2 separate regions of the Homo sapiens genome follow, and region 1 is linked to region 2. A link means that fine-mapping ties the variant in region 2 to the expression of a gene that starts in the linked region. Tissue or cell type: whole blood. Region 2 holds a variant in brackets; the other region holds the start of a gene. All regions are shown on one strand. Distances are from middle to middle.

What was found. PIP is the estimated chance that this variant, and not a neighbour inherited with it, causes the effect.
Region 1: CAPN5 starts here. The variant in region 2 is fine-mapped to the expression of CAPN5 in whole blood (TOPMed, PIP above 0.99).

What each region holds. Positions count from the first base shown.
Region 1 is chr11:77,063,358-77,071,460 of GRCh38, reverse strand. CAPN5 (calpain 5) reads right to left here and starts at 4,490. Exons shown (of 13, transcript NM_004055.5): 1 at 4,367-4,490. LOC105369400 (a long non-coding RNA gene) reads left to right here and starts at 7,738. Exons shown (of 3, transcript XR_950341.1): 1 at 7,738-8,103. RefSeq lists a silencer at 4,285-4,974 and an enhancer at 4,831-5,331.
Region 2 is chr11:77,109,744-77,117,846 of GRCh38, reverse strand. It overlaps CAPN5 (calpain 5), which reads right to left. Exons shown (of 13, transcript NM_004055.5): 4 at 5,050-5,258; 5 at 3,413-3,605; 6 at 2,259-2,452; 7 at 1,544-1,621. Among named protein-coding and RNA genes, the nearest start is that of OMP, 11 kb to the right of the region's middle. RefSeq lists enhancers at 2,939-3,532, 3,533-4,128, 4,129-4,723. The variant T/G (reference allele first, on the strand shown) is at 3,629.

The DNA of each region.
Region 1 (8,103 bases), 46 kb after region 2:
ATCAAATGACCCTGCAAAGCACTGGGCTTATTGCGTGAATGTCTGAAATGAGCTGCACTCCACCCTGAAAGGCCCAGCACGCTGTCAAAGGCAGGCAGGGTCCAGACATTGGGGACCACCCATGCGGCTGTGCCAGGGATGCCCTTCTTCCAAACATCCCTGAACTCTGGCTACCAGGGGCTCAGGCTGCACACTGGGGCCAGGGCTACAGCAGCGCCCAGCCTCCAAGGCTCCCAGGCTGGAGGGGAGACAGACATTGTGAGTGACCTCCTGGGGGAAACAGGACTGTGACTGGGGAAGCCAGCCTCGGTGGGCACTGGGGTGGGGGCGGGAGCTGGGAATGGTGCCTGCAGTGACGCTGCTGTCAGCTCCTGGGGTGGGCTGAATGACGGCCCCAAAGATACTCCCAACCGAATCCCTAGAACCTGTGAATGACACCTTGTATGGCACAAGGGACTCTGAAGATGCGATTAAGGATTTTGAGACAGGGAGACGATCTTGGCTTATCTGGGTGGGCCCTGAATGTAATCACAAGTGTCCCTATAAGAGGGAGGTGGAGAGGATCTGCCTGCAGAGGAGGAAAGAGCAATGAGACAGAAGCAGAGACTGGGGCAATGTTGCCATAAGGAATGCCAGCAGCCACCGGAGGCTGGAAGAGACAGGGAATGGACTCTCCCCTAGATCCCACAGAAGAAGCCAGCCTGGATTTTAGCTCCATTAGACTCATGGGGGACTTCTCATCTCCGGAACTGTAAGAGCATAAATCTGTGTTGTTTTCAGCCACCAAGTGTGGCAATTTGTCGCAACAGTGATAGGAAAGGAATATGCTCTTGAACGATGCTGTTCCTGAAGAATAGCTAATGGGAGCCGGGGTGTCATGGGGTCCCACCCGCCTCTCCTGCCCGGAGAAGCCCATGAGGGAAATGAAGTTCTTACACCTTGAGTTGCTCCGCTGTACAACAGTCACCCCACATCAGTTTCTTAGTTCCTGCTATGAGTAACAAATCACTTGGGTCCCACCTCACTCCAACTGGCAGAAGTTACACAGCAGCAGGGGGCACTGGCTGAGCAGGGGCTGGCTGGGCAGGGCAGGTGGGTCAAGCCAATGGGCTCCCAGCCTTCTGCCCACCATCCCCGGGGGCACATCCTGACAGTGAAGGGCAGCTGGGGACCAGTGGATGGGCTTTGATGTGCTCTGGTCACCAGCCCCTTCTCTTGCATGCCCACTGTGGGAGAAAACCACAGCACACACCCACAGGCCACCGCAGCCTCAGCTGTTGCCCACCCAGACCCCTATCCCTGGGAAAACTTGGGTCCCTGGAAGCACACGTGCAAACAACCAGAATGGGGAGCAGTAACCCAGGCCCTTGCGGGTAAGCACACATCATCCACAGCTTCCCCATCCAAGCCTGAGGCTGGCTTCCTAAGACATCCAGATTCCAACCGCAAAGGGACCTGGCCCCTTTGCCTTGGGTGAGCAGGGAAAGGCAAAGCCTGAGTTCATAGGCAAGTGAGCAGCTCTGCCTGCACTAAAGCAAGGCAATCCCAGGGTGTCTCCACCAGCCTGGAGGAGGGCTCAGAGGTGGGCAGCAGGAAGGCCAAGCCTCAGGACCACGGTGAGCCCAGGAAAGTTTTGAGCGGGGACCAGGGATGGAGAGGCAGAAGAGTTCTCTGAGGGCACTTGAGAGGTGCCTGGGAGGGGCTCTGAAGGCACTCAAAACACTTGAATAGATGGGGACAGAGACAGAACGGGTGAAAAGCCCAGCTGCAGAGAGACTGCTGCCAGCTGCCCAGGAGGCTGCTGGGGAGGGGTGGGGGGTGTTGCAGACCCTGCTCTTTGCAGCTGGGGGAGCCCAGGGCCCACTGCTGGGCTTTCTGTTCAACCTTTACATGCTGTACTCTAGGGTGCTCCCGGCTGCTCAGCCCTTGCCTCTCCTCAAGGGCTAGAAGCTTTTGGGGGAAGCCAGGGGACTTGGTCAGGCAGATACAGATCACTCCCGTAAGTCCCCTTCACCCACTAAAGCCAAGAGAGGCTTCCGTTTCAATAGGAGAGGACTGTTTCCTTCCACCCTTCTTCTCCCAAAGTCAGCCCCTCATCCCCAGGGAGGGAACTAAGTGATGCTGATTGCCAGCTGCTATTAGTAACAATGGCTACCAGACACCATGTACTTAGAAAGATGCGTTCAGTGACATGATCTAAGTTCATCTTCATCATCCCCCGAGTCCCTGTGAATAGGCAGCATTTATCCCCATTCCGCACATGAGAAAACTGAGACAGAAAAGGGAAGTTCTCCGCCTCAAGGTCATAGGCAAGTAGGAAGGTACAGAGATGGTCTCAGCCAAGAGAAAGAACAGACACATGATTTAGGCCCTGCAGGTAGGAGAGGGTGCCCACTGAGGGCGCAGGAGGCCTCCTGTTTGGGGACCAGGACTCCAGGGCTGATCTGACAGCCTGCCAGGAAAGCAGGCGCAGAAGCAGACAGAGACAGTGCTGGCCTGGGAGCAGTGTCCCAGATGTCACCCACAAAAACCCACAGGCATCTCACAACCACCCTGTCCAACAGTCAACTTACTCCCAACCTGCTCCACCCCCAATGGTGGTCCCCATCTCACAGAGGCAGCCCCACCTACCTTCCCCCAGCACTGGGACCCTGTGTAGCCCCTTAGCCCCTGGGCACCTCCTGCCCCCAGCACCCCTGCTCTGGGAAACTTTATCAGGGTCCCTCCTCCCCTGCCAAGCCTAGCCCTGGGTGGGGAGCAGAGGAGAGCAGAAGGGAGGGCCCTCTCCCTGCTTTGGCCTCCTCCTTATAGCCCTCAGTGGAAGCCCACCCACTACTGCAGCCAAAGGTGGCCCTTCTTGGACACACATCTGACCTATCTAATCCGCAATCCACCCCACCAGCATTCATTTTCACACTGCCAGGCCTTTACTCATGCTGTTCCTTGGGGCTGCAATGACCTGCCTTTTCTTTTCTGCTTGGTGGATTTCAAGACCCAGCCCCAACGAATCTGCAAGTGAACTCATCCCCAGCTCCCGGGCACCCATCAGTCCCTGTCTTGTGCTCCCAGCACTGGGTACAACTCTGGACAGGGCCTTATCTGTGGACCCACTGCCTGTCTTGTCAGAAGAGAGGCTCCTCAGGGCAAAGACCCCGCCTGAGCACCTCTGTGTGCTGGCAACTAGCCTGACCTGGCCTGCAGCAGCAGCTGGGCCCACCATACCCTGCCCAGGAGGCAAAGGCAGCCACACCACCCCACCCCCAGACCCTGGGGACAGGAGCAAGGACCAGCCCGAGGACCCTGGGAGGTGTCAATCCTTGCAAAACACAGTGGTTCCCCCAGCAGGCCTCAGACTCATTGAGTTGGCTGAGCCTCACCCGTAAGCCCCTCTCTTCCAAGAAGTCTGCCCAGATCTCTCTTTCCCCTGAGTCCTGGGATAGTCGCCCTCAGTACTTTTCTCTCTAAACCACAGGTGTAGGGAGAAGATTCTGGGATGAGAGCCAGGCGGACCCGGGTTCAAATTCTGGCTCAGCAATCCTGAGAGGGCAGCTGACTTCGCTTCTCTGTGCCCCACTCTTCTGATCTGTATGGAACTTGGGGGTGAATCCCACCACATGAAATGACTGGGAGAGAGAACGTCGCACCTGTTAATGATCTTTTGTCCTATTTCGCCTCTGGTCCCCTAGGCCAGTCTTCCGAGACCCCCAACGCAAAGGAACAGAGGTGGGAACTCTGAGGTCTGAGAAACAAAGATCCATTCCCTCCCAGACCACTCCCCCACACTCCCGCAACACACACACACACACACACACACACACACACACACACGTGCGCCCGCCCTGCAGTCAAGGAGAAAAGCCCCCTTTCAACCTGGGGAGTAGTGCCAAGAAGCGGATAGGCTGGGGCAGTAGGAGCCTCGGCCCTGCCCCTTCCCCAGGCCTGGGTGGTGGAGCACCCAGAAGGGGTTGGTGGATTGCAGGGATGAAAGGGGGGTTAAGCAGGGAAGAGAAGGGGGGAACTGTAAGGAAGATGAGAGGAAGTGACAGTCTAGCCCCGGGTGTTAGGCGCTTCCAGCGCGTCCGCACTAGGAAAACGACTCGGAGACACCCAGAGGGAGGTGAAAAAAAGACTCCTCGCCGGGGGTGGGGGTGGGGACGAGCCGAGGGGGCCCAGGCGGATGCTCCAGGACCCCGCCCCCCAGCCAGCGCTCACTTCCTTTCCCCCCGGGCCCGCGGGAGGTGCAGCCCCCTCCACTGATTCGTGGTCCCGGAGCAATCACTGGCCCGCGCTGCACCCGCACACACCCCCCCGAAACACACACACACACACACACAGAAGCACACGCCTCCCTCCGCCCGCCTCCTACCGGCCGAGCCGCCGCGGGTCCAGCCGGGCTCCCGGGATGCAGGGCACGGCGCGGGCGCTGGAGCGGAGGCTGCAGCCGCCCGGCGCAGCAGCCTCGGGCTCTGGCCGGAGATCCAGCTGGGACTGGCCTGCGGCGGGGGCTGGCGCTCGCATTCCCCGGGTTCGGCCAGCTGGGCCCGGCTCCGCCCCGCCCCGCCCGCGGCCTCCGCCCATTTGCCCGTTGCGAGCCGGAGGCGTGGTCTCCCGTGGGGCGGGGTGGGCGGCCCGGTGGCCGGGTGCGCCCATGCGCACTGGTGCGGTGGGCGGCCGCTCAGAGGAGCGGTCTCATTCCAGCCCCTGTGTTGAACGCGGACTTGGGGCCCCTAGCGGCACCCACCGCCTCTACCGGCTCGGTCGGGCCCTCGTTCTCTCTCCTTCCCAGCCTATCTGTCTGCGGTTGGTGCGCATCCCCATGGGCAGCCTCCCAAGGGCTGGCTGCACCGTGAGGGATCGGGCCGGGGCTGGGGTTCAGCCCCCACAGGGCGGGCCGGGGCCGCGGCTGACTTGGGGCCGGCGTGTAGTACCGAGGACCCGCAAGGGCCAGGGTGCCTGCCAGAACCAGGACTTGGTGGGCGGCGCCCCTCCCTTTCCGGGCTCCACCTTCACATCCATCCCAAGTGTTCGGATGGAGAAGTGGGAGCCCAGGCCCCTGTGAGCAGCAGAGGGCCTCTGTCAGATGGGAAAACTGACCCCGGCCCGTGTTGAGGACTTAATCCCGTGCTGCCATGGGCTCCCGGGCTCGGGCTCATGTTTGACTCTCTGTCCGTGACTGGCTACCGGAATGCCCTGGGATGGCACGGAGCCTGCATTTCCTGATCTGTAAAACGGGGACTATAATCTCTACCCACCCCAGGCCGCTTGGGGAATCCGATAGAGAAGGTTTAGGAGTGACTAGTTCTTGCCTACAGTAGGAGCTCAGGGGTGCCACCACCCCCCGCCCTGAGGCAGCAGGACAGACGCCCATCTGATCTGATGAGCCCATCGGCCCACTCGCTGGTGGAGCGTCTCAGGCCCGTTCATTCTCCGCCTCCAATTTGTTTCGAAGTCTCAGTTAATGATTTCGTCAACCTCTTGTGTTACCGAAACAAACTTGGGTCCGCCCACCCAGTGCAGCAAAGCCAAACACTGACACCAGGATTTGCAGCGGCAGAAAGGGAGGCATTTATTGCAGGGTGCCAAGCAAGGAGAATAGGTCGGCTAATGCTTAAGACCCGTACTCCCCAATGGTTTACATGTAAGGCTTTTTAAAGGTGGGGAGACAGAGGTTATAGGCAAAGTCATAAATAAATACTCTGGAGCTATACATTGGCTTGGCCCAAAAAGGTGAGACATTTTGAGGCAGGGTCATAGGTGGATTCAGAGATTCTGTGATTTGCAATTGGCTTAGGAAGCAAGACTGTCTAAAAACCTGGGGTCCACAGATAGGAGAGTTAAGCATTGGCTTATGGGTGTGACTCTTTACAGAACCCTTGGGAAGAAATTTAAAGAACAGCCCTCAGTTTCCCCTTATCTGAGGCCTAAGTGACAGCTGTGAAAAACAATTCAGGGACATAGGTCAAGATGTTATCTTTAGTTTCTATAGGGAACCAGACATCTTGTGGCTCTAACTTATTTGGGTGGCCCTTGTTTGAAGCTTCAATTACCTTCTTGCTTGTCAAGGTGCTCATTTACTTCTCAAAGCTAGCTAGCTGCCTGAAATTCCCCCTGAAAAGACTCATGATTTTCCTTTATTTCCACTAAGAGGAGTCTCTGCCTCACCTCACTCTCAGTCACCTGGACTTCTCTAGCTTCTCCCCAACCTCCCTGCCTCTGTCCCAGGCCACCCAGATGCTTCTCCCTTAAGAGTAGCCCCAGCCCCCTCAGGAGCCTCCTATCCAACCAAAGAAGACTTTCACATATGCAGCTGAGACCCGCCACCCATAGAAGAGTGTTCTAAGACTGCACCCCATCTGACTCCCCCATCTCCCCTAACCTTATTCCATGCCCTGTACTGGGAGCAGCAGCTTCACCAGCCCTTCAAAAGTCACTTCAGGGGCTCTACTCTCCCCACCTGAAACCATGCCCGTGCTGATCTGTGGCCGTCTGAAGGACTCTTCCTTCCTCCCTGTGCTGCAGCATCCCAAAGCTCCCTTGCTCAGCATCCACCCCTCACCTATGGCCCTTCTCAGGCTGCGTCTCTCAGAGTTGCTGGTGGGGCCAAGGTTTCCCCTGCAAGGCCAAAGTTCCTGGAGGGCAGAGGCCAAGGGTCATTGTCAGGAAGACAGCAGCACTTGGTAGAGCCAAGTAGATCTGGGCTCCAGTCCTCACTCTGCCAGTTACTGGCTGTGTGATCTGGGCAGGTCCTCTATCCTTTTCCCTGTCTGTAAAATGGGCTTCTAGCTGGAGTGTGTGATGACCAGGTACAGGCAAGTCACGGGGATCGATAAAGGCCCGGTTGTGTAGGATACTGGGCAGCATTGTCTCTGGGCTGGGCAACTCCCATGTGTTCCAAGGTGGGGCTGGGGTTGTGTCTGAGAAGGCATGTTTGCCTCAGCCCACAAAACAGTGGGGTTCAGAGGATGCTCAGACCCCCTTCTGTATCTCAAAGCATTGGAGCCACAAGAGGGTATTGTGCAGTAGTTGCAAGCATGGGCTCTGCCTGGGCTCATATTAGCTGAGTGACCTCAGACAAGTGACCCAACCTCACTGTGCCAGTATCCTCTCCTATAAAGCCAGCATAGCAACAGTCGCACCATGGAGTTGTTGTGGGATTAAATGGGCCGGGACATACGGAGCCCTCATGGTTGCCCTTTGCTTGGAGTAAGAGCTCAGCATGTGCTAGCTGGTGTTATTGTCATCTGGCCCAGCCCCTCATTTTGTGAAGACATTGAGTCCCAGAAGCAGAGACATGCACTCATGGCCAGTGAGAAGCCCAGCCACCCTAGCAGGTTAGCACTGGAAGGGCCCAGTCCTTTAATCATCTCCAGCAGCTCCACCTTCTCCGACAGGTGAGGAAAGAGGCCTAGCGAGAGTGACCTGCCCAGGACACCCACCCTGGTGGCCGGGTGGAGAGAGCATTGGCCCTGCTCTTGGGGGAGAGAGAGGTCCCCAAGATAGGCCAGGAAGAGCCAGATCTGCCCAACAAGGTTGGGGAAAAGGTGGGACTTTGATGATGCTCTGGCCCGGGATCCTGCTGGTCAGTTTTTGTAAACTGAGTCATCTAATGGTACCATCGCAGGGCCTGATGTGGAGGTGCACTTCCCATTTCTCACAACCGCCCTCTGCAGCAGCTCTGATTAGTCCATTTTCCAGATGACAGAACCAAGCCTCAGGGAGATGCCCCAGGTCACACAATTAGTAACTGGAATCCAAACCTACCCTGTCTGACTCCACTCTTGTGGCCTTTCCCTCCCCTCTTCCTATCTCCTCCAGGAAAAGGTCACCTCTGCAGGCTCCTTGACTGGCTGTCCCACCTCTGCTTGCATGCCACTGTAACTGGGAACTCATTTCCTCATAGCACAACCCTTTCTCCTCTACCTGGGAGAGCTTTTGTCACCCAGAGCTGATCCACCCCTCTCTTCCTGGTTCTGCCAGACTCTATACCCTCTATCTTACCAGAGCCTAGAGACAGAATCTTCTCTGCCCAGGTTAGAAAACCCCTATCTTCACTGCTCCTGTGTGTAATAGGATTTCCCAGGTGAAACTTATGATAATCATGTT
Region 2 (8,103 bases):
CTGGCAAACGCTGGCTGTTACTATTGTGAATGGTGTTAATAACTACTGTCTGCTGCCCTGTACAGTTTATAAAGCACATCTGCATCCAGGATCTTCCATGGCTGTTGAGAGGCCTGAGTAAGTGGATGGTGGGAACCCCATGGTGAGCCTGCTGCGGTGGCCAGGGTGTTGCTATGGTCACTGCACACTGTGAACGCCTCCAGGGAGCTGGTGGGGGCAGGGGGCAGTGAATTAACCGTGAACATGTAAGAGAAAGGCCTTTGGAAGAAACTCTTTCTAAAGGCAAGGAGCTCTGCCGTGTTTTTATCTGCTGACTCCTGAGCAAGACTGGCAAAGTGGCCTGGGTGGCCTCCTGCAGCAGCTGACCTGACACCTGCAGAAGGGTTCATCATTGGGTGCCAGGACCACTGCCATCTGCCCCCAGTCTGCCTGGGGGCCCTGACAGAATCCAGCACACACAGGATGCCAATACCCCTCCAGGAAGGGACTGAGTTTCCATATCAGGTTCTGCTGAAGGGTGACACTGAGCCTAGCCCACATTCAGGACTCATGCAGGCTGGATGAATGCAGGATGAACTTTTATTACTACTGGGGTTTTTCTTTTTGTTTTTGAAACAGGGTCTTGCTCTTTAGCCCAGGATGGAGTGCAGTGGTGCGATCATGGCTCACTATAAACTCAACCTCCTGGGCTCAAGCAATCCTCCCCTCTCAGCCTCTAGAGTAGCTGAGACTACAGGGGTACATCATCACACCCAGCTAATTTTTCATTTTTGTAGAGATGGGGTCCCACTATGCTGCCCAGGCTGGTCTCAAACTCCTGGACTCAAGCAATCCTTCTACCTTGACCTCCCAAAGTGCTGGGATTATAGACATGAGCCACTGTACCCAGCCAATTACTGGGCTCTTTAAGCTGAGCTGCTGTCATCTTCCCAGCTCACCCATGTACCTGCTTAGCTCCCTTCTCAAACACAGCTGTGTTCTCTCACCTCTGAGCCACGTCCTCTTCCTTGCCCACCAAGGCCTACTCTGTACCTCAAGTCTCAGCTTAGAAGCTAGTTCCTCTAGGAGCCTCTGCTACCTAATTTCAGAAATCAGGCTGCCAGAGGGCCCCTGGAGGCAGGCTGAGGGCAGGGCTTCCTGGAGAGGGGCTGGGCATAGCCCCAGTGCCCCTGGCCACACCATACTGCTGGTGCTGGACTGTGCTTCATGCCTCCTTACCCTTGCCGGGGAGATCCTGGTGGGCCCACCTCTTAGACGGCTCCCTGACCTGCATGCCAAAGGCTCGGTCTGGGTGCCACAGCGGCTCCAGGACCCCTCAGTTCGGCAGAGGGGACTGTGGGGATGAAAGGGCCTGGTACTGCCCAACTAATTTTACAGAGGAGGAAACAGGCTCTGAGATGGTGTGACTTGTCCAAGGCCACACAGCAAATTGATGATGGGGCATGCAGGAGAGGCCTGGCTCCTGACTCCCCACCTGGTGCTCCCCGCCAGGCCCGTGGGAAGCCCCCTCAGCCCCGGACGCCCAGGGCACATACACACTCACCAGAACTCACCGTCGTCCTGCACGGTCACACCCATCTTCTCCCGCTCACTCTTGCTCACTTTCTGCCACTCCTCCGAGCTGGGGTGTCAGGGCCGGGGAGGAGAAAGGGAGCTGTCTAAGAGGCAGCCCCACCAGAATCTGTCTGGCAAAGGCGAGGAGGCACGAGGGGCAGTCTTGCACCAGGCCTCCAGCGGCACGGTGTGGCCAGGGGCACTGAGGCCATGCCCAGCCCCTCTCCAGGAAGCCCTGCCTGTCTCCTCCCACAAGGGACCGTGAGCTGCCACCATGACAGGGGCTGGGAGGTCTGAAAGTAAAGCTGCAGACTGGGGGGAAGGGGGGTGCGACCCCCAGTGAAGAGGGCTCCTTCACTTAGCACCTGGGCTCCACTCCCATCTTGGCCTTACCAGGGCCATAAGCCAAGCACAGAGGAGTCCCCCATTTGCTCAGGGCTGTGGCCTCCCTCCCTGCTCCCCTCCCGCACCCACTCACCAAGCTGGTCTCTACACCCCTGATGGCCTCCAGCCCCAGGCCTTTCTTGTGCTCAATCCATCACCCCATACAACCACTGCAAAGTAATTCTCCCTTCTTCGTTCCTAGTGTCATCCTCCCCCAGATCCTTCAAGGCCCAGCCCCAGTGCCAACTCCTCCAAGAAGCCCACCCGTCCTTGTCCAAGCCCTCATGCCCTGTGCCTGCACCCCCATCCCCAGGCCTCACGTGTCACTCCAGGGCCCGTTCCACTCCCGCTCGCCCCAGGGGTTGCGCAGGCGGATCATGTCCAACTTCTCTGACTTGAAGAAGGCCAGTAGGCCGTGGCCCAGGCGCACCTTGCGCACATCAGTGACGGCGTATGCGTGGCCCTTTACCAGGCCGCACGCCAGGCGGGCCTCCATGTCAGCTGCTGTCACTGCCTGTGGAGGGACACAGTTGCTCAGAGAGGCAGGGCCACACTGGAACCCAGACCAGGGACTCAGGTGCTGGAGGGCTAGGAGGCTGCACGGGACCTACAGGATGGGATGGGAATTGCAGTCATGGGGCAGTGCTGTGTTCACAGAGCTTTAAAACCCCCATGGGCAGCAGTCTCAGTAAAGGAAGGTGCCCATAGTGGGTCAGCCCAGGGGAATGCTGGGGCCCACGTGCACTGGCTCAGCTGTTGTTAAATATTCGGGAATATTTAAATTGTTAAATATTCCAGGAATTGTTAAATATTCAGGAACATTGTTTTGTTTTTTGTTTTTTTTTTGGATGGAGTTTTGCTCTTGTTGCCCAGGCTGGAGTGCAATGGCGCGATCTTGGCTCACCACAATTTCTGCCTCCCGGGTTCAAGCAATTCTCCTGCCTCAGCCTCCCGAGTAGCTGGGATTACAGGCATGTGCCACCATGCCCGGCCAGGAATATTGTTAATAGCTGGTTGTTAAATGTGGGTAGTTGGAAATCAGCCATGGTGGGAGTATTTACACCACAGTAATTAGCAAATGCTACAAACCGGGGCTTTTTACTTTGCTGGAGGCAGTTTACCAGCACAGCACAGGGTCTGCTAAAGTTGGGTTTGAACTTGGCTTTCACTGGGCCTCAGCTTTCTCATCCAAAACACGAGCAAGTAATGAAATCAGGACCACCCTCAGATGCACAGACGTTCATAACCCAAGAGGATCAGAAAAGAAGTTTTGGTTGAACAGTGCGGGAAAGGCTTTTCACAGCCTAGAGGGTCTGGGCAGGGGGTTGCACCTTCCAACTTCTCCCCTCCCCCACGAGGCTGAGGGTCTGAATACGTAGGAGCTGACCTGAGCGTGGGATGTCACAGTTGTCTCCCATCTCAGTCAGCGAGGGTGAAGGGGAGGGGTCGCCTCTGGGGACTGCCGTGTTCTCACCTTGATGGAGGCACTGATGAGGCCGCCCCGGCTGTGCACCTTTAACATGCGCTCAAAGAGCTGGTTCCTCTTAGTCTCATCGTTGGCAAAGTCACCCTCGGTCAGGTCGATGGGCTCAGAAACACCACCCGTGAAGTCCACCAGTGCGTCTGCTGTGTTGCCTCCATCCAGGGCCTGGTAACAGCCTGCCAGTCTGGGAAGCAATGTGGAAAGACT[T/G]CCCAGCTCATGCTCCCCAGCCAGGCTGCATCCTTTACCTCATAGGGGAGGTTTTTGAAACTCAGAGGGGTCAAACAACCTGTTACAGTCACGCAGCAGGCCACGGCGGAGCCAACACTGGAACCCAGTTCTTAACACTCGGGCCAACATATAAGGCTTAAATTCCCCTAAGCCTTAGTGGCTCAATCTTAAAAAATCAGCTGTCCAAAAAAAAAAAAGCAACTCTTTTCCAAAGTGCCAACAATGGTCAGGGGGAGGGGAAGGAGTTACTGTCGGATGGGTATAGACCTCCTGCTGGGAATGATGAGAAGGTTCTGGGGATAGATAGTGGTGATGGCCCATAGCACTGTGATCATAATGAATGCCACTGAATTGTATGTTTCCATATGGTTAAAATGAGAAGCATTATGTTTTGTCTATTTTACCACAATGAAACTGTGTTTTTTCAAAAAACAAAAAACAACCAAGGCCACTGGGTCGACCTGCATCCAGGTGGTGGAGACTCAGTGGCCACCAGGGGGCTGGCTTTCCTTTCTTAGGATTGAAAGTGGAACCTGCCAATGTGTTTTCTTGGGTTTTTGATGTTGGGAGTTTTTGTCTTTCCTTTTCCTCTCTCCCCCTTTCTCTTGTTTTCTATCTCTCTCTCTCCTTGCTCCTGCCCCTACACACACATTTTTTCAGCAAGATTGACAAATGGGCCTAGCAGGAGGAACCAGAGAGTGGCTCACCTAGAGCTGGCGAGGCTGGCCTCTGACCCCACTGCCCCTCCTCCCTCCTCCCTCCTGGCCTAGGCGTATCCCTGCCCTGCAACGGCCTGCGCGAGTCACTCTTCCCCAGGGTTCCCCACAGCTCAGCAAAACTTTGCTTGTGCCCATTCTATGCTGGGCTCTGTGTTGGGCACTGGGGACACAGAAGCAGAAGGCACGGAGCAGAAGGAGGGGTCAGCAAAGACAGAATGGACAGTCAGCCAGGCAGAGGCGGATGGTGGACAAGAGGGAGGCCCAGCAGGCGGGGAAGGCAGGCACGTGGCCCACCCTGCACAACCAGGCCCCAGCTCAGTTACCACTTCCCCAACCAAGGCCCCAGGCAGGGCATGGCAGCATGAACCTTCGAGAATGGTCCTAAATGTGAGTGCTGCCTCTGCCCCCAGCTACCTACAGGATGTTGCCTGGGCCTCAGTCTTCTCCCCCTAAAATGGGAGTAACCAACATTCCTCTCCTTACAGGGCCCAGGCCTCCACCCCACCCAGCACAGGCTCAGCTGACTATGCCCTCAGGCCTGGCGGTTGAGCCTGCTGCGTGCCTGCACCAGCCCCTCACTTCTCTGTGCCTAAAGCCCTGGCTAACGGAATACCACGAGGAGCCCATCCGGTGCCACCCCCGTCTGGGCCTCCCACCCACCTGCCTGCTGCTGGCACCTACTTGGCATAGGCCTTCTCCACTAGGGCGCACCAAAACTCATTGCGGGAGTTGGAGTGGCAGTAGATGAGCTGGTTGTTGACTGTGGGCAGCCGGTCATCGATGACCACGTCCACCCATTCCCCGAAGCGCCAGAAGTGGAAGTGGAAGATGCCCGCGTAGGCGTTGGGCTTTTCGGGGTCCCATTCCTGCTCCTTCCAGTCTGGGATGACCTGGGTAGGGGGAGGGGGGATAGGATGGGGGAACACAGTGAGGGGATGTCCGGCTTCCTGAGGAAATGGGGGCGTGTGCTTCCAGCGAATCGGAATGTAAAGGAATACTGGGTTCGGATTCCAACTCTGCCACAAGCCTTCGTGAGACCCGGATGAATCCTCCCCATCTCCAGGCTCAGGTTCCCATCTCCGCGAGGCTTGGAGGCTCCCTCGGCCTCCTTCCAGCTGTTGTTCTCAGAGTGTGTGAGCTTTCCTCTTTCTCATGCCTCCCTGCAACCTTCCCCGAGACTTCCGTCCACATCTACCACCAGCTCCTGCCTAGTGACCAGCGCCACCATCCACCCATCCAGCCCACCCCAAGGCTGGCAGCCCCACTGGCTGCTTTGCTTTCCCTCCCTCCATCCAGTCAGCCCAATCTGAGCGCCTCCATTCTCCTGAAATCCATCTCCTCCTCTCCATCCTACTGGCACCACCCTGGCCCAATCCCCCATCTCCTCGCCCAGGGACAACTGTAGCAGTGTCTGCAGCTACATCTACTCTCGCCCCACATAGACCAACCCAGTCCTGTCACTTCCCTAGAAAATAAGACACAAACTCTCAATGCACTCCCCCAGCCTCATTTCTCTGCCTCCCCCACAGCAGCCCCCACCCCTGCTCCCTGCTCCAGGTTCTTCCTTCTCCTCATTACTCAGTAGACTTCCATTTGTCCTTTAGTGTCCATCCTCTTTCTCCAGGAAGCCTCCCTGACTATTCAGATTAGGCCAGGACCCCTATCTCAGTCTCATGGCCCTTGGCAGCTCTCATCTGAGATACTTACCTTTACCAAGTTATAATTAAGTAACTCTGTGACTTTGAGCTCTGATGTTACACTGGGAATGTCAGTTCTCTGGGGGCAGGGCCATATAGGTCTCAGTCACTGCTATGCACCCAGCACCTAGCCCAGGGCCTGACCCAGAGAGTATGTTTAGTAAACATGCATTGACTGAATGAATGAATTCAAAGACATTGACTGGGGACACTGAGACATTGATTTTATTACTTATGACGCATCTGGGAAATGCCTGTGACTACCATGACTTATCTCCATTTAATTATCACAATAACCTCTGAGTAGATGACTATTATCCAGCCCTACTTCACAGATGACAATACTGTGGCCCAGAGAGGGCACGTAACTCGTCCAGGGTCACCCAGCTAGAAAATACACACATGCTTTGGAGGCAGACCAACCTTGGTTTGAAGCCAGGATTCAAACCCAGATCTGTCTGCCTCTGAAAAATGAGCTCCTTGGCACTGTGGACCACTCTGCAACCAGCCCCAAGCTGGACACTGACAACCAGGTGAATCACATGGTCCCTTCCCTCAAAAGGCTCCCAGTCTGGGGAGAGGAGGAGGCACCCAGGCAAAGTGCTGAGGCTACACAGGGTGCAGGCGGGGCTATACCAGAAGGGAGTGCCAGACCCTACTCAGCAGCATCCGCAGTGCTGCTACAGGCGTCCCCCAAGCAGATGAGGACAATAGCCACAATCTGGGCAGAGAAGGGAAAACCCCTCACCCTGTCAAGTCAGGGTGAATGACCCCTGGCCCTGCTGGGCACGGGACCAAGTGGAGCTGAGCCCCATCAGGACCATAAGCAGCTCTTTCTAGAAGAAAACCACTCCAGGTATGGGGGGCACCCAGGCGGAGGAACCAGAGGCACACCAGGAGGCCGGCACTCACCTGAGTGTACAGACTTCAGCCAAAAGCTGCTCCCCACTGCATGCTCATTAAGGACACTTTTGTTTGCATCAACAAACAAAACTCTTACCATCAAAAGGGATGTTGGCAAAGGGAAATGCTCCCTAATGGGACATGTGAGACCAAGAAAATGAAAATGCTAACTGCAGCGAGAGGTACTACTGCCCTAATGGAGCCCTGTTGGGTGCCAGGCACAGGGCCAGGCTGCTCACACTAGCACCCCTGAGCCTCAGGACAGGCTTTTGAGGCAATACTACCGGAAGGTGCTGGCAGAAGGCTGCCCACAGGCTCAAGCGAGGGAGGCAGGGTTCAAACCCAGGACTTCCCAACCTCACTGTCTGGAACCCAGCAAGGGCTCAACACTGGCTGTTCCTTTCCCCCACCTCCTCACCCCCACTTTTCTGTCAACTCTGTGCCCTTTCTAAGTAAAAATGCCCTGACTCCTGGCACTCTCTCCCCACTTTGCTTTCAGGACAGACAGCTGTATCAAAAACACGTCTCATGGGAGGCCAAGGCAGGTGGATCACTTGAGGCCAGTTCGATACCAGCCTGGCCAACATGGTAAAACTCTGTCTCTACTAAAAAAGAATACAAAAATTAGCTGGGCGTGGTGGTGCGTGCCTGTAATCCTAGCCATTCAGGAGGCTGACTCATGAGAATCGCTTGAACCTGGGAGGCGGAGGTTGCAGTGAGCTGGGCAACAGAGCAAGACTCTGTCTCAAAAAAAAAAAAAAGAGCGGTTCCATACAAGGTGAGGGTTACCATTCCCACTGCACAAATGGGAAGACTGAGGTCCAGAAAGAAACAAGATCTGCCCAAGCGCACAGAGTGACAGGGAGTCCTAAGCTGAGAACACAGGCCTGGCCCATCACCTTCACCCCCTCCTTCTGCTCCTGCCCTGTTCTGAATGCTCTGGACTCCATGGCTGGGAGGAAGGGCAGCCCTCACAGGCTGCTAGGACCTCGGGAGGATCATTAGTCAAACTCGAGGCTTGGCTCTGAGCCCTCTGTGGCTCAAGAAGCTGCTAATGAGGCTCCAGGGCCTGGAGACCCAGAGTCTGGGATCCCCAAGGGCCTCCATTTCCCCTCCTGCTTCACCGCCCCTGCAC